4 linked regions of the Homo sapiens genome follow. The protein of the gene in region 3 interacts with the protein of the main gene of each other region in a pairwise test. Each region holds a gene or a part of one and is shown on either strand. Other genes may lie near its edges.

Region 1 (4,421 bases), on a different chromosome or scaffold from region 3:
GCTTGAACCCGGGAGGCAGAGGTTGCAGTGAGCCAAGATTGCACCGCTGCACTCCAGCCTGGGTGACAGCGTGAGACTCTGTCTCAAAAAAAATAAAAAAGTCTATAATGCTATTTTAAGTTTCTAAGGAACTGAAACTGCTCTGAAATAAATCAGACCATTATAAGACTTTTTTCCATATCAGTGAGCTAAGTGCAGATAAGCTTCTGAAACTTGCATGCTAGATTTTTTTGGTACAAATATTTGAAATGCTTAGTGTGCTGCCTTGGAAAAACCTGGTATTTTTTGTTGTGTCCTTATACTGCCAAGGTTTATGGAATCATGTACCTTATGCCTAGTAATAATTAGGATGACCAGGCCAGTGAGTGGTTCATATCCGGGGCATGATTAGCTCTGCGTGTGCTCAGCCAGTGCCCCATCTTCAACTCGATGTGTTCCTAAGGTAGACAGCAAATTCCCTATTTTATTTCTCAGATTGTCACTGCTGTTCCAAGGGCACACGCAGAGGGATTTGGAATTCCTGGAGAGTTGCCTTTGTGAGAAGCTGGAAATATTTCTTTCAATTCCATCTCTTAGTTTTCCATGTAAGTATTCAGTTTACATTTATGTTGCAGGTTAATCTTAAGAATTGTATTGCTAAGGCTTCTAAGTGAATTTCTCCACTCTATTTGCATTTTGTTGCATTTCAGAGGAACATCAAGAAATCATGAACAACTTTGGTAATGAAGAGTTTGACTGCCACTTCCTCGATGAAGGTTTTACTGCCAAGGACATTCTGGACCAGAAAATTAATGAAGTTTCTTCTTCTGTAAGTATATGAGGCCCATGCTGGCAGTGCAGCTGAGAGTGCCAGGCAAGTGGAAAACTTTGGCAAGGTCTAAGGAAGAGCAATGAGGCTTACATGTCTTGTTATGGAATGTAGAAATTAATTCACTGGTGGTAAATTAATAGTGATAATGGTGATACTCATATCAGTGGCTAGACTCAAAAGAGCAGGATTCATTGTGACTGATGGGAATGAAGGTCGCTGGCTATTGGTGTGGTGTGTGGTGAGGCTGCTAGTGAGTCACCTGTGACCACTCTTGTTTCAGGATGATAAGGATGCCTTCTATGTGGCAGACCTGGGAGACATTCTAAAGAAACATCTGAGGTGGTTAAAAGCTCTCCCTCGTGTCACCCCCTTTTATGCAGTCAAATGTAATGATAGCAAAGCCATCGTGAAGACCCTTGCTGCTACCGGGACAGGATTTGACTGTGCTAGCAAGGTAAGCGATAGCAGCAGGCCTCAAAAGCGTTGTATAAAATGGGCCTGGTATTCCCCACGAGGCAGATACAAGTTGTGTTTTTTGGGCAATAAATGCTCACTAAAGGCAAATGGGGCGGGGGGGTACATGACAACTTCCCATGCTTTTCTGTTTATTCCACGTGTTAAGCCACATATGGATAGCATGACACCACTCTTCTTTTTCAGACTGAAATACAGTTGGTGCAGAGTCTGGGGGTGCCTCCAGAGAGGATTATCTATGCAAATCCTTGTAAACAAGTATCTCAAATTAAGTATGCTGCTAATAATGGAGTCCAGATGATGACTTTTGATAGTGAAGTTGAGTTGATGAAAGTTGCCAGAGCACATCCCAAAGCAAAGTGAGTTATTCCCCCATCTGAGGGCAAGATCGGGAGCATAAGATATGTGGATTCTTATCAAACAAACTTAAATTTCTGATTATTATATTTCTATACTTTAGTAGAAAGTAGTTGAAACCCCCATTGAGTCATGAAGCCTGGGACTCAAACTACAGAATATATCAGCGACAGTATTTAGAACAGGATTGTTTTTATTTTAATTGTGGCTATAAGTGAACATCTATCATGAGACATTTGCTGCACTTTCCTTGCTTGTAGGTTGGTTTTGCGGATTGCCACTGATGATTCCAAAGCAGTCTGTCGTCTCAGTGTGAAATTCGGTGCCACGCTCAGAACCAGCAGGCTCCTTTTGGAACGGGCGAAAGAGCTAAATATCGATGTTGTTGGTGTCAGGTGAGATTTTGGTGGGATAGCTAGAGGTCAAGACATTGAACAGTTTGAGTTTTACAGGCTTTCTCCTAGTGTTTGCTATTATTTTAAGAAATACTAAGACACAGTGTCTCGTCTCTTTATTTTACCCCAGCTTCCATGTAGGAAGCGGCTGTACCGATCCTGAGACCTTCGTGCAGGCAATCTCTGATGCCCGCTGTGTTTTTGACATGGGGGTGAGTATACGTGACCCTGTTAGGGAAGGGCGGGACACAACTGACAATAACTAGTCTTAATTCTAGAGTTAACTTTTTATGGCAGTTGGTTCTGTATTACATGGGTTTCAGCCTATCTGCTGCATACATTTTTGTTATTAGCTGTGGATCTGGCTGACTTATTTTCTTGATTCTAGGCTGAGGTTGGTTTCAGCATGTATCTGCTTGATATTGGCGGTGGCTTTCCTGGATCTGAGGATGTGAAACTTAAATTTGAAGAGGTAATTTAGAACAAAACTGTAATACTCAGTAGCCGTTCTAATAAATTCCTTTTTGGAATATTTCAAAATTTAAGTGTCTTAACTAATACCACAATGGGCTGAAGTGTCTTGGTGTGATATTTTGAGTGATTTCTTTGTGCTGTCTGACATTACACTTGATACCATTTGGTTTTCTAAAGTGTGAATCAGCTTTCCCAGAAGTCTTGGATAATTGGTTACATTGGAAATCATGGCTCACACCTGTAATCCAGCACTTGGGGAGGCCAAGGTGGTAGGATCACTTGAGCCCAGGAGTTTGAGACCAGCCTGGGCAACACAGTGAGACCCCATCTCTACAAAAAAAATTTTAAAATTAGCCTGGTGTGGTGGCGGGCACCTGTAATCCCAGCTACTTGGAAGGCTGAGGTGGGAGGATCACTTGAGCCCAGGAGGTTGAGGCTGCAGTGAGCCATGATCATGCCACTGCACTCAGCCTGGGCTACAGAGTGAGACCCTGTCTCAAAAAAAAAAAAGAAAAAGCATGTTGCTGTGGGCTTCCTAGAGAATATGCTGACTGTAGCACATCATCACCCCAAATGTGCTTTGCTAGACCTATGCTTCCTCTCCTTAAAATACTTGAAATGTTTAGTCACTTAGGAAGTTAAGCCATTATATTGGTGCTTGAATTTATAAAATATATCCACATGGTTTGTTAAAATCATGACGTAGGCAGAATAGGATTTTTATCCTGTTGGCATGTATTTGTTAAAATGTTTTGACATCTTGATGCCTTCCTAGGTAGTAGTTAGTTGCGTACTGTTCTTTGATAAAAATCATACCCATAACATCCTAAAGGAGATAGGGTGCCTGGAGGGGAATGAAAACGAGCCACCTGGGATATGTAGCCTGGTTTTCAGGGAGATGTTGATGTTTTTTTGCTTTTGTTACTTTAATGATAAACCTGTCTGTTGATGCCTGGTCTCATGATGTCATGTCACAAGGCCCTGTGATGTTACTCCCCCATGTGAATTTCCCACAATGAAGGCTGCTCTTTCTTTTCTGTTTCACTCTCTTAGATCACCGGCGTAATCAACCCAGCGTTGGACAAATACTTTCCGTCAGACTCTGGAGTGAGAATCATAGCTGAGCCCGGCAGATACTATGTTGCATCAGCTTTCACGCTTGCAGTTAATATCATTGCCAAGAAAATTGTATTAAAGGAACAGACGGGCTCTGATGGTATGTATAAAGGACGAATCACTTCATGTATAACTGAAAGCTGATGCAAAAAGTCATTAAGATTGTTGATCTGCCTTTCTAGACGAAGATGAGTCGAGTGAGCAGACCTTTATGTATTATGTGAATGATGGCGTCTATGGATCATTTAATTGCATACTCTATGACCACGCACATGTAAAGCCCCTTCTGCAAAAGGTAATTTCTGAGCATACTGTATAAAACAATTAAGAGGACTGGTCACAACACGTGTAATTAAGTAGTACTTCCTCTCTCCGTCTCTTTATATAGAGACCTAAACCAGATGAGAAGTATTATTCATCCAGCATATGGGGACCAACATGTGATGGCCTCGATCGGATTGTTGAGCGCTGTGACCTGCCTGAAATGCATGTGGGTGATTGGATGCTCTTTGAAAACATGGGCGCTTACACTGTTGCTGCTGCCTCTACGTTCAATGGCTTCCAGAGGCCGACGATCTACTATGTGATGTCAGGGCCTGCGTGGTAAGTAAGCCATGCATGTTGATGGTGCTGCCAAGAATAGGCACCTTCTTGGATGTGTGCTTCTTGTCTAGACGAATAAGAAATTGTCTTGCCTAAGATTAAATATATATGGATATTTTTCCTAAGAAAAGTTTTAGAAAAGACTGATGAGTGTATTTCTATGTAATTGGAATATATTTAAGTTCATGCCA
Region 2 (4,991 bases), on a different chromosome or scaffold from region 3:
TCATCTTCAAAATAGAGTGTTATTTGTCTCTATCTGAGGGCCATTAGATTTTTACTGAGGACTAACATCAAACTGATGTAAATAGAAAACTCCATATTACAACTGGAGGACAGTATTATCATTAATTGAATGTCACAGAATTTTAGAGCAGGAGAAGCTCTACCAAGGCACCTAGTGCAACACCCACATTTGCCACCCAGGGCCTGGAAAGGTAACCTGAACACTGCACCCACTTTTACAGCTCCTGTTCCACCCACACCCAGTCATAAATGCTCAGATACAGTTTTTCTCTTGCTATAGGCTACAAATAACTATAGCTAAGATAAATATCAGCAATGAAAGGCACCCAAATATCAAAGATGGGTGTCTAGACCAGGTGGGATGGAGCAGAAGTGACCCAAAGCTGCAGGGATTTCTGTGGCCACCCCACTCACCACTGAAAAGCCAGAGGCCATCAAGGCTGGAGCTCCTATACTACCAGGGAGGCTGATCCCATGAGACCATCACTTCCAAATCAGCCTGAACATATCTGAATGGCCTGGGCTAAAAAGGGAAGAGGTAGGAGCGAGAAGGGCAGAAAATGAGTAGTGCACGGGTGCTGAGTGATAAAGGTGCCACAGTCAGCACTGTGAGCAGAAGTGCCCACCACTGTCTGCAAAGCCTTTCCTGGGCTGCCCTGAAAGCATCCTCAATTACACAGAGGGCTCTTCTCTTTATCACACATTTTCAGTTGTGAGATAGGTGAGGATCAAGAAGGATGCAAAGGCTGGGCATCATTTCAATAAACTTTTCATCTTCTCCAGCACAAAAGACAAACCAATGCCAGATATCATCCACATCCTGGCTCAGCCCCACTCAGGCCTCACCTCCCACCTATATCCTCCTGTTCCTGCGGGTCCACTCCTCCCACCCTTGCCTCCTGCTCTTCCTCCAGCCTCCAGATACAGTGGTGATGCTGCACAGGCCCCTCTGCACAGGCCTCTGCCTGTAATGTTCTCATGCCCTGATATCCACATGGCTGGCTCCTTCCCTTCATTCAGATCTTTGCTCAAAAGTCACCTTGTCATTGAGGCCTTTCCTGAGCACTCTAGGTAAACATCCCACTTCCTCCTTCGAAAAGTTCCAAGAAGGCAAGGACTTGACTGGCATATGGTATATGCTCAATAAATATTTATTGAATGCAGAAATGATGAGGGCATCGAGACAGCACCGATAAGCTAACAGGATGCCTCGGAAAGCTCAATGTCCATCACTGCACATCACACAAAACCAGACAAACTACAGACTTGGGAGGACTGACCTGCAAGGTCAGCACCACTCAGGGAGGAGTCCAAGAGGCAGTTGGGGCTACACTCACCTGTACAGAATGACTTCCGGCCAGGTTCCAGTGACTTGATCCCATCCCCTACTTGTGCAAAGATCTCCACTGTGTATGATGAGCCAGGTATTAATTCAGTGACTGTAGCGTCAGTAATTCCAATGTCCGTGACTACTTGTGTTGCGTTGCTGGAATTTCCAGCCTTCTCAATAAGAAGGCAGTAGGAGTACGTGGGAGAGGCGTCATCAAAGTTCTGCCAACTTAAAGTTGCTGCTGTGGTGTTGGTACTTACATCAATGTTGGACACATTGCTGGGCCCTTGATTTTAAAAAAAAGGCAATTCATGTAAAAGCACAGATTAAGTAGAATTCCAGGACTATTTACTATATCCAAAAATAGCCTGGCTCGTTTTAGAAAGAATGAATAAAACTAGTATTTGCTGGCTCAAAAGATGGAAAACTTCCCAAAAACACATCAAGAAAATAATTATACAGATTAAGTCTCAAAAGAAGTTTAATTTAGGCTTCTTTTAATACTTCAAGTTTATTTCAAATATATTTTTAACATTTAATTTCTAATCTGTTTTTTAAATCTAATAGATGGAGAAAAATATACTAAAAACATATTACAAACTAACATCTTTACCATGTATTTAATTCAAATATTCGCAAAACACCTCCCTAACTGTTGCAGGCGAAGCTCCTCATCTGGGCAGTATCTTCCAATACCAACATGACAAGGTGACCCTTCTCTACTCTGTATTCTCAAGGAATGACTAGAACCATTTCAGTCACCATTCCCAAGGAATCATTTCTTCCTTCTAATGACAATTCTAAGTTCACATAGCTTGAAGAACAGTGCCCCATGGTGACAGCAGAACCATTGCTGAGACCAATGTTTTCAACTTCAGCAGTTTCAGAGTCAACCTGGATCCCAGAAGCACACTGGCCATCATTTAACCAGTGCCTCCTCCAAGAGACAGTTAGAGAGGCTGTTCCTTAGAAGGGCATCCTAAGAGACTTACGTGTGTACTGTGCAGTGGAGTTGGGGTCCCCCCAGACGTGGTCCACTTCTGGAGAGATGGTGATGTTATATAAGGTGCCCGGAATCAGGCCCTGGAGAGTAATCGCTTTGTCATACGTGCTTGTGTGGTTAGAGCCATGCTTGGACTCTATGACTAAATGGTAGACATACTCGGAAGCACCGTCAGGGCTCTTCCAGTCCAGCCACATCTCCGTGGTGGTGACGTAGACCACGTGGATGTCAAACACTGCACTGGGAACTGCTCAGAAGAAAGGAAGGAGAAGGGAAAACTGTTACTATCATGACGCCCAGCTTCCTCTCCAAGTGCTGTCGAGAGGACCTGCTCTTTTGCCATTACGCTTTCTAATGAGTTCACAAAAGGCACACTCCAAAATCGAGCTGAGAAATGCACACACTCAGTGCTCTCAAGAATTTCAGCTCTTCTGTGACGCACATGAACTTCCCAGTTTATCTTACCAGTTCTCCAGTTTTTTGTTGTTGTCTTAAAAATGAGCCCTTAGGCTGGGTGCAATGGCTCATGCCTGTAATCCCAACATTTTGGGAAGCCGAGATGGATCACTTGAGGTCAGAGGTTCGAGACTAGCCTGGCCAACATGGTGAAAACCCATCTCTACTAAAAATACAAAAATTAGTTGGGTGTGGTGGTACACGCCTGTAATCCCAGCTACTCGGGAGGCTGGGGCACAAGAGTCGCTTGAACCCAGAAGGCAGAGGTTGCAGTGAGCCGATATCACACCACTGCACTCCAGCCTGGGCGACAGAATGAGGCTCTGTCTCAAAAAAAAAAAAAAAAAAAAAAAGGCCAGGCGCGGTGGATCACGCCTGTAATCCCAGCACTTTGGGCAGCCAAGGCAGGCGGATCACCTGAAGTCGGGAGTTTGAGACCAGCCTGACCAGCATGGAGAAACCCCGTCTCTATCAAAAAAAGTACAAAATTAGCCGGGCGTGGTGGTGCATGCCTGTAGTCCCAGCTACTTGGGAGGCTGAGGCAGGAGAATCACTTGAACCCGGAAGGCAGAGGTTGCAGTGAGCCAAGATCGCGCCATCGCACTCCAGCCTGGGCAACAAGAGCGAAACTCCATCTCAAAAAAAAAAAAAAAAAAAAAGCCCTTCAAGGGGTCATCTGAAGTGGAAATCACATTCAGTTTTTTTATATGGGTGCTGGTAACAAGATGTGTTCAGTTTGTAAAAGTTCATGAAGCTATGTGCTGAGGATACATCCCTTTTCGGTATGTATATTATATCTCAATAAAGAGGTTTTTTTGTTTTGTTGTGTTTTTTAAATCAGTCACTCAGAAGGAAACATCTTCCCGTGACACAGCCTTACATACCAAAGAGGAAAACTGAAATGGAGAGCTGACCTTTACTAAGTTGCAGCATTTGAGGACGGATGAGGAAGGGAAGAAAACAGGCACACCCTGCACCTTCAGAGCAGAGTCAGAAATGGAATCTCCCACAGGAGCCCATCCTCCGATCATCTCCCGCTGCCCACTCAGCCACCTGCACCAGGGATGCCTACATAGAGGCCCGGAAGTAACCGCGGAGGCTGGGCCTATTTTCTACCGCGGCTTTCAACCCTGTCTCTCTTTACCTGGCAACAAACGTCACCTCCAGGGAGAGGAAATGGGCAGGTAGGGGACAAAAAAGGGAAATGCTTTCACTGCAAACACCTTGTCCAAAAAACAAAAAAAATTGTGCCATGTTTACGTACTATCTACTCCAAAATTAATTTTTTTTTTAATTTTAAGTGGATTCTCCTTACAGAGAAGCCACTGGGAGGAGCCTTTGTTTCCTACCAGCAGATTCCTGATGTCAAAGGGATTCCACAGACAAAAGCCCATGAAAGGCAGCCTTTGTCTATAAACATAAAAACCTAGAAACAACCTAAATATTCAATAACATGGGGAGGGCTGTGGGCACTGTGATCTGGCTGCATGATGAAATACTCTTTAGCCACTAAAAATATGAAGGCCATGCTAACTATAGGGGAAAGTTGTGGTATAGACTGAGTAAAAAGAAATTCAAATACAAAATAAAAGTATTTGTATAATAATTACAGTATACAAGCAAAATGTATGACTGTGGACACAGAGAGAAAAGGAATTCAGTTGGGTTAGAAAAATAGAGATATTTGTTCCTTTTCATTTTTATTGTGGTAAAACATACATACCATAATATTTATCATCTTAACCATTTGTCAGTGTACAATTCGGTATCATCAATATTCACAATGTTGTGTAACTATCACCACTACCTGTACCCAAAACACTGTCATTATCCCCAGCATAAACTGTAGCCATTAAACAATAATGCCCACTCCCTCCTCTGAACAGCCCCTGGTAACCTCTATTCTAATTTCTGTAGAATATTAAGTTGCCTAATCTAGGTACTCATGTAAGTGGAATCATCCAGTATTTGTCCTTCTGTGTCTGGCTTCACTTAGCATAATGTCCTCAAGATCCATCCATGTTGTACCATAAATCAGAATTTCTTTCTTTCTTATGGCTGAATAGTATTTTGTTGTATGGATGAACCACATTTTATCTATCCATTCATTTGTTGATGGGATCTTGGGTCCACCTTTGGCTACTGTGAACAATGCTACTACTATGAACACTGATGTACAAAT
Region 3 (5,552 bases):
AGACATTTTCCCTGACTTTGATAACTTTAGATTCCATGAGGAATCAGCCTGGTTTTAAGCTTCTCATCAATGCAAATCTGTAAAAAAAATACTGTCTGTCTGGCTCTCTGCCATGGCTATCAGAAAGAATGAAAACTGCAGTTCCATTTTGGAAAATCTGTAACATCAGGCGACCTCCATCTTTCCACATGCCAATTCTGCTGTGCTACTGCCCTGCTTTTCTATATATTCCTTGAATGATTTTGATCCATTTCTACATTTCCATATTAATATGTGGACCCTTAAACACCTATGAAATCCATGATGAAAAAGGTATTAGTAATTAACTCACCTGAGATATGTTCATTTTCTGCTGCTCCTGAAAGAGTGTGGAGAACCGTAAAGGATAACCTGGGGGTGAGGAAGGAGTCATGAGAGATCTGGGCAGCCTCCATCTTACCTGCCTACCAATGTCATCACACCAGCTGGGGAAAAAGGCCTCTCTACAAAAAATGTTCCTTTGACCTTTGAGAAGGGACAAGCAGCACTACAGAGAAAGCACCTCCTGAATATGTGCATCTTTAATATGATCATGTGGATGAACCCTTGCTGTGTGTGTGTGTTTTTTTGTTTTTTTTTTTTGAGACAGGATCTGGCTCTGTTGCCCAGGCTGGAGTGCAGCGGTGTGATCTCAGTTCACTGCAACTTCTGCCTCCTGGGTTCATGCAATTCTCCCGTCTCAGCCTCCTGAGTTGCTGGGACCAAAGGCACCCACCACTACACCCAGCTAATTTTTGTATTTTTTGTAGAAATGGGGTTTCACCATGTAGCTTAGGCTGGTCTCGAACTCCTGACCTCAAGCAATCTGCCCGCCTTGGCCTCCCAAAATGCTGGGATTGCAGGGGTGAGCCACCAGGCCTGGCCCCTTGCTGTTTTTCATCAGGCGATTGTAGACTATTTTCCTATTGATTTATTTAAAATGTATGTCTTCTTTGACTAACAACTTAAACAGAATTAACATTAATATTCTGTTAATATTATTTACACCAATAGAAAACACAAAACTGAAAAAAAGGAGATGCTGAAAGACTATTTTAAAATATTTTTGTTCTAACTTATAGTTTCTCAAAAGACTTTCGATAAGACACTTCTGGTGACTCACCTGTGACAGAGTGAACAGCACTGTGCTTTGCTCCAAGCTCTGTCCTGAGTGACCATGGACAAACTGTTCATCCTAGGTTCAATACTTTTTAAGGTTTTAAGAGTCAGAAATAGAAATCCTTTCCTGTATTATCATTTTTGTGATTCTACAGGTTCAGGATAGAGGCAACCTTAGTAAATTTCTAGATGCTACATGTGATGGATGTTGTGTGAGAGTGACTCAGAATCTGGAAAGAGTGAGGCAAGAATGAAGAAAATGGGGGCTCTATGAGGAGGATTAGAGACAATTTCCTCAGCCCTGGCTGGTTATGCCTTCCTTGGAGACCATGGAGAAAAGCCCTCCAGTAATGTGGCTTTTCCTGTGCAGTCTGACAGTCACCCACGCCTCTCAACCCCAGCTTACCACCTTCTGCAAGTTGGCCCACAGTGTTCAGTGTCACACAATCTGTGATGGCTTCTGGATGTGGCGACATCACCAAGTCTGGTGCTCTCTGGGCAAGGGGATGAAGAAGTGCCGCTGGTTGGGCAAATCAAGACCTGCTCCTTTCTGGGTTCTTCTGCATCTGTTTGGAAGCCCTGGTGAGGAGGTCTCTGTTCTGTCAGAGAGCAGTTCTTCGGTGGGACTCCTGTTCCTGGGGCTCCCTCCTTCCTGCAACATAAAGAGCTGCTTTGCTCCAGAGAAGCTGGGGCTGATGCCTGGGTAACAAATTTATTTTAGTTGAAACTTTCATGGAAAACAGTGTTCTTCACGTCAGCACAACTTCCATTTTGGGCTGGATAATCCTCTGACATAAGGAGTGGTCCTGTGCATTGCAGGATGTTTAAGAGCATTTCTAAACATGCACTAGACACTAGGACACCCCTTCTCCCTGTTGTGACAATCAGAAACGTCTCCAGGCCGGGCGTGGTGGCTCACGCCTGTAATCCCAGGACTGTGGGAGGCCAAGGCAGGTGGATCACCTGAGGTCAGGAGTTCAAGATAAGCCTGGCCAATATGGTGAAACCCCACCTCTACTAAAAATACAAAAAATTAGCTGGGCATGGCCATGCATGCTTGTAATTCCAGCTGAGATTACAAGCTGGGAGGCTGGGGCAGGAGAATCAGTTGAACCTGGGAGGTGGAGGTTGCAGTGAGCCAAGATCACACCACTGCCCTCCAGCCTGGGCGACAGAGAGAAACTCAGTCCCCTCTCCCCCCACCAAAAAAGTCTCCAACATTTCCAAAGTTCCCTAGGGAGCAAAATCCTCCTGGTGAAGAAGTGACCTAAGGCCTTAAACCTGATTCTCTTGGCATTAATTAGAACCCTGCTATCCATGACTACAGCCTCCAATCACATCAACTACTGAGCACTGGAAATGTGGCTAGGACCACATGTTGAAATAACATTTTGGATACACTGAGAAAACCACAGTATGTTCTTAAAATTAATTTCATGTTTTAGATTTTCATGTAGCTACTAGTTTAACATTTAAAATTACGTATGTGACTCATCTTCACTGCCCTAGAATATCAGACTGACTTCTAAAGACAGAGACAGGAGGGACAGCACAGGAGGTGGCAGGGGCCTCAGTCTAACCCAGAGGCTCTGGAGACATCCCAGAAACCCCACAACAAATACACTTGCCACATAGTAAGATTCTGTCCACACTGACTTCACAATCATTGTCCTGGGGTTTTGGGGACAATCACTCAGTGCTGTGAAGGCTGCAATGCTGGGTTAGGTAGGTAGGCCATTACAAACAGCCTGATTCGGGGAGTAAAGTGTTTATGTATTGACATCCTAGCTCTCTCATCCTTTGTGAGCTTGGCTCTATCTTTTCACTCCTCCTTCTTCATTTTTAATGATATAAATAGGGTGGTTGTGAGAATTAAACGAAATACTACATGAAAAGAACAAAGTGTCTTCCAAATATAACGGGAATCAACATTTACATGCTGCTTAGTAACTAGCGCTTAGCTAAATGCTTTACAGGGGATGGCTTACCTCTGAACGACACAAAGCAGTTTTTACTAATATCCTCATTTTCAAACGCTCAAGTGACAGAGCCAAAATTCACGAGGTCCTTCTAGCTCCTAGGCTCGGCCTCTCACCGCAGACCCACGGGCTGTACGCGCTTTGTGGCAGGTTCATGGTCAATACAATAAACGCGCATTCCCCTCCTGAAGCCAGCACCGCGTTTTCCGACGCCTGGCTGCATTCTGGCGCCCATACCTCGGCCCGCACCGAGCATCTTCCAACTAGGACTCAGCCCCACCTAACGCCCCCGGAGCCCGCCCCCACCGGCCCTTCTCAGGCTGAGGTCCCGGGCCGGCCGAGGCACAGGGAGCGACGGCCTGCTTTGGGGGAGTTCCCGGGACGTCGCGTTCCCGCCCCCTGGACACTAGCACATCCCTCCCTGCAGGTCCGCAATCCGCGTGGAGGCCCGGCGCTCTCACCTGAGCTGCGAACCCTCTGCACCAGCAAACACTAACAGGGAGAAGCCGGAAAGTGGGGTTGACTGCACATGCGCAGACGAAAACGCGCATATCCGTTCCCAGCATGCTGCGCGGTAACCCATAACATGCAAGACTACGTTTCACATGCAGTACGGCGCCAGCTGTCAGTGTTTTTTTGTTTGTTTTTCCCCCAAGATTTATGGCGTAATAACATGGACCGTCCTGATAACTGGAGCCCGGGTTCTGTCAGAGCCCCAGAGGTTGTGGGTTAGACTTGATGACATAACAGCAAATGCAGCGTGTGGTTACAGAAAGCAAGAGCCGCGGAAGACGTTTGAAAACAATTGGGAAAATTTGTATACGGACTGGAAATTAGAATTATTAATTAATTGTGGCAGCATTGGGATTATGTAGGTAATCTTGCTTATTCATAAAGAGATGTCTATGTAAGTATTTAGGATTGTATTATGTTTGTAAGTTTTTGGGTTTTTTGGTTTTTTTTTTTTTTTTTGAGACGGAGTCTTACTCTGTCGCCCAGGCTGGAGTGCAGTGGCGCGATCTCGGCTAACTGCAACCTCCGCCTCCCGGGTTCAAGCGATTCTCCTGCCTCAGCCTCCCAAGTAGCTGGGACTACAGGCGCCCGCCACTACGCCCAGCTAATTTTTGTATTTTTAGTAGAGACGGGGTTTCACCATGTTGGCCAGGCTGGTCTCGAACTCCTCACCTCAAGTGATCCGCCTGCCTTGGCCTCCCAAAGTGCTGGGTATACAGGCGTGAGCTACCACTCCCGGCCCGTTTGTAAGTTCTTTTTAAAAAATAATTAGAAATGGGAAGTATGGCAAAATGTTAAGAATATCTACTTCTAGAATATGGACATGCTTATTGACTATGTGTTGGAAAATTTTATAATATAAAGTTGATAAAGGGAAAATTGGGACTGTAATGTTACAAGTGTGCCTTTTAACTTAGAGCTGCCACAAAAATACATAAACAGCTTTGTGAATAAAGCCGTAAAATGTAACAAATACTAGAAAATGGAAACCATTATTAACATAAAAGAATAATATTTGTGATCCTCAGTTTATCTCTGGGGGGAAAAAAAGAAAAAGCAAGTAAGCTGTTCAGCATTACATAATACCTGAAGTACACACAATCCCAACTAAGAAAACCGTTATCCACAAATTATGCATCTCCTAGAGATGAGCTTGCTTAAATCTTATGTGGTATGCTTCTGAAATCAGGAACCAAATTAGGAACCTCTCAGCACAGTATTTTATGACACTCTTTTTAGTAACACACATACACTCACACACACACGGTTGATACTTTCTAACAGGTTATTTTATATGGCAATGATAAGTTTTGATTAGCAAGAAAAAAGATTAATGGCAACAGTAAACTAGTGCAGTATATATGAATCAAGGTATAAAATTTTACTGTTGACACTGAAAAACACTTTAATAGATACTGGAGGAAAAGACTAACATTTGTTTTTAAAAATTCTAATCATCTATGTTTTCTAAGTATATATTTTCTTTTTTTGACATTTATATATTTTGCCTGTTTTCCTAAAGGAACTATTCCAATTTTCATTCTAATAAAAACTTATGGTAATGATCAGAAAAGAATTGAAAATGCATAGCAATATCTCTATATTTACTATGTATACTATCACTAAATATTTAAAAATTTATCCTGGTGCAGTAAAAGTTCAACTATATGAAAAAGAAAGAATGTAGTATGTATCAGCTGGCTTTTAAAGCAGTGGAAAGAGAACCTTCAGTAACCTTGTTAGGACAATGAGATAGGTGCTGGGACAAAGGACATATCCATGGCACTAACATTACAATCAATAATTTTCACAAGGATTCATTCAACAATAAGCAATTAATAATATCAAAGTTTTAAATTTTTAAATTATACATTTCTTAAGTTTTTAAGAGAAACAGGTGTTTTAAAAAGATAAACCCTTTAA
Region 4 (4,991 bases), on a different chromosome or scaffold from region 3:
TTCAAAAACTAGGTGTGTATGGATTGCCTTGGCACTGAAAAATACATCCTCTTTCCAGGTGAGCGAAGGACCCCCTCTGAGGCTTTGGAGGTCAGTCATTGAAGTCCCTGCTGTGCCAGAGGAAATCTTAAAGCGCCTACTTAAAGAACAGCACCTCTGGGATGTAGACCTGTTGGATTCAAAAGTGATCGAAATTCTGGACAGCCAAACTGAAATTTACCAGTATGTCCAAAACAGTATGGCACCTCATCCTGCTCGAGACTACGTTGTTTTAAGGTGAGCGCTTCCCAGTTGTTTTTTTGTGACAAGGATGACTCCATATATGAACCAAGCCTATATGTCACTGATCTTACAAGATGGTATAATTATTTAAAGTAGAGGCCGGGCATATGGTGGCTCACACCTGTAATCCCAGCACTCTGGGAGGCCAAGGTGGGAGGATCACTTGAGGCCAGCAGTTCAAGACCAGCCTGGGTAATATAGCAAGACCCTATCTCTACAAAAAAATTTTAAAAATCAGCTAGATGTTGTGGTGCATGCCTGTAGTCCTAGCTACTCGGGAGGCCGAGGCAGGAGGATCCCTTGAGCCAGGAGTTTGAGGCCGCAGTGAGCTGTGAGCATGCCACTGTACCGCAGCCTGGGCAACAGAGCAAGACCTTATTTCTGAATAAACAAAACAAAACATATGCTTCCAGAAAAGTAGTGAACACCTTCAAATATGGAAAACAGATCTACATTTATTCTAGCAGTGTGTTCCTCGCTGAGAATGGTCTGAACTCTTTGGTAACTGAGCTCAGAAAGAGAGGCCCCTTCCAATGAATATGCTCATTCGTAGCAGATTTTTGCCCCTTTTAGGATAGATTTTCTTGTCAGAAACAGCTAGTGAATGAATAAGCCAGGAAATAACATTTGAGTCCCAAGGGAGATGTGGTTAAGGCTGATGTATGTGTAATTCATAAATTCTCTGGAGATATTACTGAAAGAAGAATTCCAAAAATCTTTGTGGAAATGTCACATTGGAAGTCCAGACCTTTTCAAACAGCCAGCGCTCCTTTAGGTGTCTGTGTTCCAAGACATTTGTGAAATAGAAAAATGGTTTTAAGCTACACTTCAAATGGGCTCTTTTTTCAAAGAGGAGACTGTCTGAGCACATAAACCCTCTGTAACAACGGCTCTGTACAGAGTTCCTCATTCAGCAGTCCTTGTACAGTGTCTTCGTGCATGTAATGCTGCTCTAACAGAATCTCACAGACCAGGCAATTATAATGAACAGATATTTATTTGGCTCATGGTTCTAAAGGCTGGGAAGTTCAAGATCAAGTAGTTGCATCTGGTTAGTTGGTTGGTTGTTTGATTGATTTGGGGACATGGTTTCATTCTGTCACCAAGGCTAGGGTGCAGTGGCACACTCATGGCTGCTGAAGCCTTCACCTCCCAGGCTCAAGCAATCCTCCCCCCTCAGCCTCCCAAGTAGTTGGGACTGCAGGCATGTGCCATCACACCTGGCTAATTTTTTTGTTTCTGGTAGAGACATGGTGTCACCATATTGTCCAGGCTGGTCTCAAAACTCCTGGGCTCAAGCGATCCTCCTACCTCAACCTCCCAAAGCGCCGGGATTACAGGCATGGGCCACCCACCATGCCTAATGAGGGTCTTTTTGCTGTGTCATCCCATAGTGGAAGGGCAAAGAGAGGGCAAGGGAGAGCAAAAGAGCAAATGTGCAGCCTCAAGCCATTTTTATTTTTATATTTATTTATTTTGAGATGGGGGGGTATCACTTTGTTGCCCAAGTTTGAGTACAGTGGCATGATTACAGCTTAAGCAATCCTACCATCTCAGCCCCCGGAGTAGCTGAGACTACAGGAGCACACCACCATGCCCGGCTAATATTTTTTATTTTTAGTAGAGATGAGGTATCACTATGTTGTCCAGGCTGGTCTTGAACTCCTGAGCTCAAGCAGTCCTCCCTCCCCAGCTTCCCAAAGTGCTGGGATTACAGGCGTGAGCCATGGAACCCAGCCTTAAGCTCTTTTATAATTGGCATTAATCCAGCTCCCATTAGGCCCCACCTCCCAACACTGTTGTATTGGGCATTCACTTTCCATCACATGCTTTTTGGGGAACACATGTACACCATAGCAAGTAGTTTAGAGGATGCCATTTACCTAGGCCTGGGTCACACAGCATGGCCACTGAGCCTGACCCGTCACCACACTGCAAATAGTGAAGAGTGAAGCACGATTTTAAACTTGGCTTCTATGAAATTCCATCATTTCTGCCTCTGGTTTTGTCTCTACAGAACCTGGAGGACTAATTTACCCAAAGGAGCCTGTGCCCTTTTACTAACCTCTGTGGATCACGATCGCGCACCTGTGGTGGGTGTGAGGGTTAATGTGCTCTTGTCCAGGTATTTGATTGAACCCTGTGGGCCAGGAAAATCCAAACTCACCTACATGTGCAGAGTTGACTTAAGGTATGTTCTGATTCTGATTTTTTTATATGGTGAGGGTCATGAAGGAAATTCTGACTTTTTGTCTAATGCAAAGAATGCCTTAAACAAACACGTCATTTTTTCTTGGTGACTTCATGAAGAATGGTGTTTAGAAAGTAGCATTTCATGTTTGTTGGTCTTTCAGCGACCACTTCGTAATTTGGTTCCCTTAGAAAATGTGGTTCTAAAGCAAAGCAAATATGGTAGCTCGGCCATGAATTCAAAGGCATGGGAAATGATAGATTTTATGCATTTGAACTAGCAAACAGATGTTTCTCATTTTATTTCCATGCTTTCTAACTTAAATAATTCATCAGCTTTTCTTTCTTTTCTCTGATAGGGGCCACATGCCAGAATGGTACACAAAATCTTTTGGACATTTGTGTGCAGCTGAAGTTGTAAAGATCCGGGATTCCTTCAGTAACCAGAACACTGAAACCAAAGACACCAAATCTAGGTGATCACTGAAGCAACGCAACCGCTTCCACCACCATGGTGTTTGTTTCTAGAACTTTTGCCAGTCCTTGAAGAATGGGTTCTGTGTCTAATCCTGAAACAAAGAAAACTACAAGCTGGAGTGTAGGAATTGACTATAGCAATTTGATACATTTTTAAAGCTGCTTCCTGTTTGTTGAGGGTCTGTATTCATAGACCTTGACTGGAATATGTAAGACTGTGCAAAAAAAAAAAAAAAATTTATGTGTATTCTTATTCAAATTGCTTCTGAGAAGCAAAACTCTTTAAATACATTATGGAAGATAATGAAGATACTTCATTCTCTTGTGATATCAGTGTATGCGTACCTGTGTCGCTTTATTTGCAGTGTGTTGAGGGACTGGTGTATCCACTGGAATAGTTGGTACTCTTGGATGTGTTTTCTCACCAAGATGAGCAAAGAAAGGTTTGCACAGAGGAGTGTGAATGTGTGTTTGTTGCTGGCTGAATGGCAATAGATGTCTAAGGTGGATTCAGTGTCTGGCACACTGAGACACCTCCAAGAAGGAGATTGATGCATCAGGTTCAGTTTAACCTGGAATATCTGACTACCCCTGAATCCACCCAGAAAGGGGGCCCAACACCCTTGTCCATTTATGGGTATTTTTTTTCGAAGTTATTAAGCATATTCCTTTTCCACGAACCTCTTCTGTACTTTGATTGTAATAGGTTGGCTCTTACACCCATTCCAAATGCAGTTTATTTTTAGACCCGATTGCAAATAGTGATGTAGTTTTAACCAGTATGGATTAGTTCAGGGATGAACTGCTCCCTCTAGCCTTACTGGCTCTGATCCACAGGGTTTTGTTTTGTTTTGTTTTGTTTTTTGTTTAAGTCGAGATATAAAAACTGAACACGATAACACTTACTCTTAAATCAAGCATCAACACTTTTTCCCTGTTAGAATTCTTTGCATTTTTGTGTTTGTAACAGAAACGCCTTAAGACACTATGTTTGGGAATATAGGAAACTATGTGTGTCCCAAGGAAATCCCTGTAAATTTAACTCACCTACAAAAGGCTTTTTCCCCGCCTTTGGTTGTTAACGGCATTCCTGAAAGCCACATGTGTTTATTCATTGGGCTTGTTCTTATCAGCAAATAGGTTTTCTGGTTTTATGACTTTTTGTCTTATTTTATTTTTCCTACATTTCTTTTTTTTTTTTTTTCCTTTAGAATGCCCTGGAAATATATTTAAGTGGTAATGAAAAATAGTAATCATAGTAAAACGCAACAAGAAGAAAACCAACCCAAACCAGTGAAGTTTTTTAGAACCTTTAGAAGGGTGGTCTTTATTCAGGTTTTACTGTAATGGTAAGGATTGACTCAAGAGACAGTATTAGTAAATTTATTGTGTATGGATCAAAAGTGAATAATGTATGAATGAGAGCTGTAAGAAGGATTTTTATTTTGTTATAATTTAGTTACCATTTTCAGTGTTATTTCAAAGGTTCTTTGAAGAATTTTGGGGCAGGGCATCAGATTAGAGTTTTAAAATTTGAGTATTTTGGATATCAGTGTTCCTCATGAAGATATACATGGATATTCAATTTTGATGGCTTCCAGATTTGTAAGATTGTATGTTGTATATACCATTCTATTAAGAAACATGTCCACTGTGCTTTCAAACATAGATAAAGCATGATAAAGATTATTATTTAAGATATACTTGTATTTATACCTCAGATATTCTTTTGGGTTTTGTACCTCAAGGCTTTTTTCTTCTTATTGTAAATACACTTTACGTGAATACAGTCTAAGTGAAGAAAATAAATAAAAGGAAGAGGTTTATAACTTGCTCTATATCTGTACAGATTATAATCAATAAGTGCACTATTATTAAATGTTTAAAGTAAGGGAAAAGTCTGGGCTGCCTTCCTTAATATTGCATCTCACTCCCACCCTTAAAACCACAGATTGCAAAGCATAGCATTTTAGCATCAACTACAATCAAAAGAGCGATTTGCTGAAGGAAAAATCGGACTGCAAATCATTCCAAGGCCAAAC

What was found. Proteins that work in one complex are often made in the same cells at the same time.
Region 1: the proteins of ZNF510 (region 3) and ODC1 interact in a two-hybrid assay, tested with the Homo sapiens proteins (one large-scale study listed by BioGRID and IntAct).
Region 2: the proteins of ZNF510 (region 3) and PTPRJ interact in a two-hybrid assay, tested with the Homo sapiens proteins (one large-scale study listed by BioGRID and IntAct).
Region 4: the proteins of ZNF510 (region 3) and DLC1 interact in a two-hybrid assay, tested with the Homo sapiens proteins (one large-scale study listed by BioGRID and IntAct).

What each region holds. Positions count from the first base shown.
Region 1 is NC_000002.12:10,441,318-10,445,738, reverse strand, and holds part of ODC1 (ornithine decarboxylase), read left to right. Parts: intron 1-474; 5' UTR 475-584; intron 585-689; 5' UTR 690-706; coding exon 707-808; intron 809-1,091; coding exon 1,092-1,265; intron 1,266-1,471; coding exon 1,472-1,644; intron 1,645-1,902; coding exon 1,903-2,037; intron 2,038-2,167; coding exon 2,168-2,249; intron 2,250-2,425; coding exon 2,426-2,509; intron 2,510-3,564; coding exon 3,565-3,727; intron 3,728-3,809; coding exon 3,810-3,922; intron 3,923-4,015; coding exon 4,016-4,230; intron 4,231-4,421. UniProt on the Homo sapiens protein: Catalyzes the first and rate-limiting step of polyamine biosynthesis that converts ornithine into putrescine, which is the precursor for the polyamines, spermidine and spermine.
Region 2 is NC_000011.10:48,133,648-48,138,638, reverse strand, and holds part of PTPRJ (receptor-type tyrosine-protein phosphatase eta isoform 1 precursor), read right to left. Parts: intron 2,601-4,991; coding exon 2,343-2,600; intron 1,637-2,342; coding exon 1,358-1,636; intron 1-1,357. UniProt on the Homo sapiens protein: Tyrosine phosphatase which dephosphorylates or contributes to the dephosphorylation of CTNND1, FLT3, PDGFRB, MET, KDR, LYN, SRC, MAPK1, MAPK3, EGFR, TJP1, OCLN, PIK3R1 and PIK3R2. Plays a role in cell adhesion, migration, proliferation and differentiation.
Region 3 is NC_000009.12:96,774,457-96,780,008, forward strand, and holds the start of ZNF510 (zinc finger protein 510), read right to left. Parts: upstream 3,632-5,552; 5' UTR 3,578-3,631; exon of another isoform or gene 3,126-3,577; intron 1,790-3,125; 5' UTR 1,614-1,789; coding exon 1,544-1,613; intron 391-1,543; coding exon 332-390; intron 1-331. UniProt on the Homo sapiens protein: May be involved in transcriptional regulation.
Region 4 is NC_000008.11:13,083,772-13,088,762, reverse strand, and holds part of DLC1 (rho GTPase-activating protein 7), read left to right. Parts: intron 1-58; coding exon 59-276; intron 277-2,299; coding exon 2,300-2,473; intron 2,474-2,831; coding exon 2,832-2,952; 3' UTR 2,953-4,900; coding exon of another isoform or gene 4,901-4,954; 3' UTR 4,955-4,991. UniProt on the Homo sapiens protein: Functions as a GTPase-activating protein for the small GTPases RHOA, RHOB, RHOC and CDC42, terminating their downstream signaling.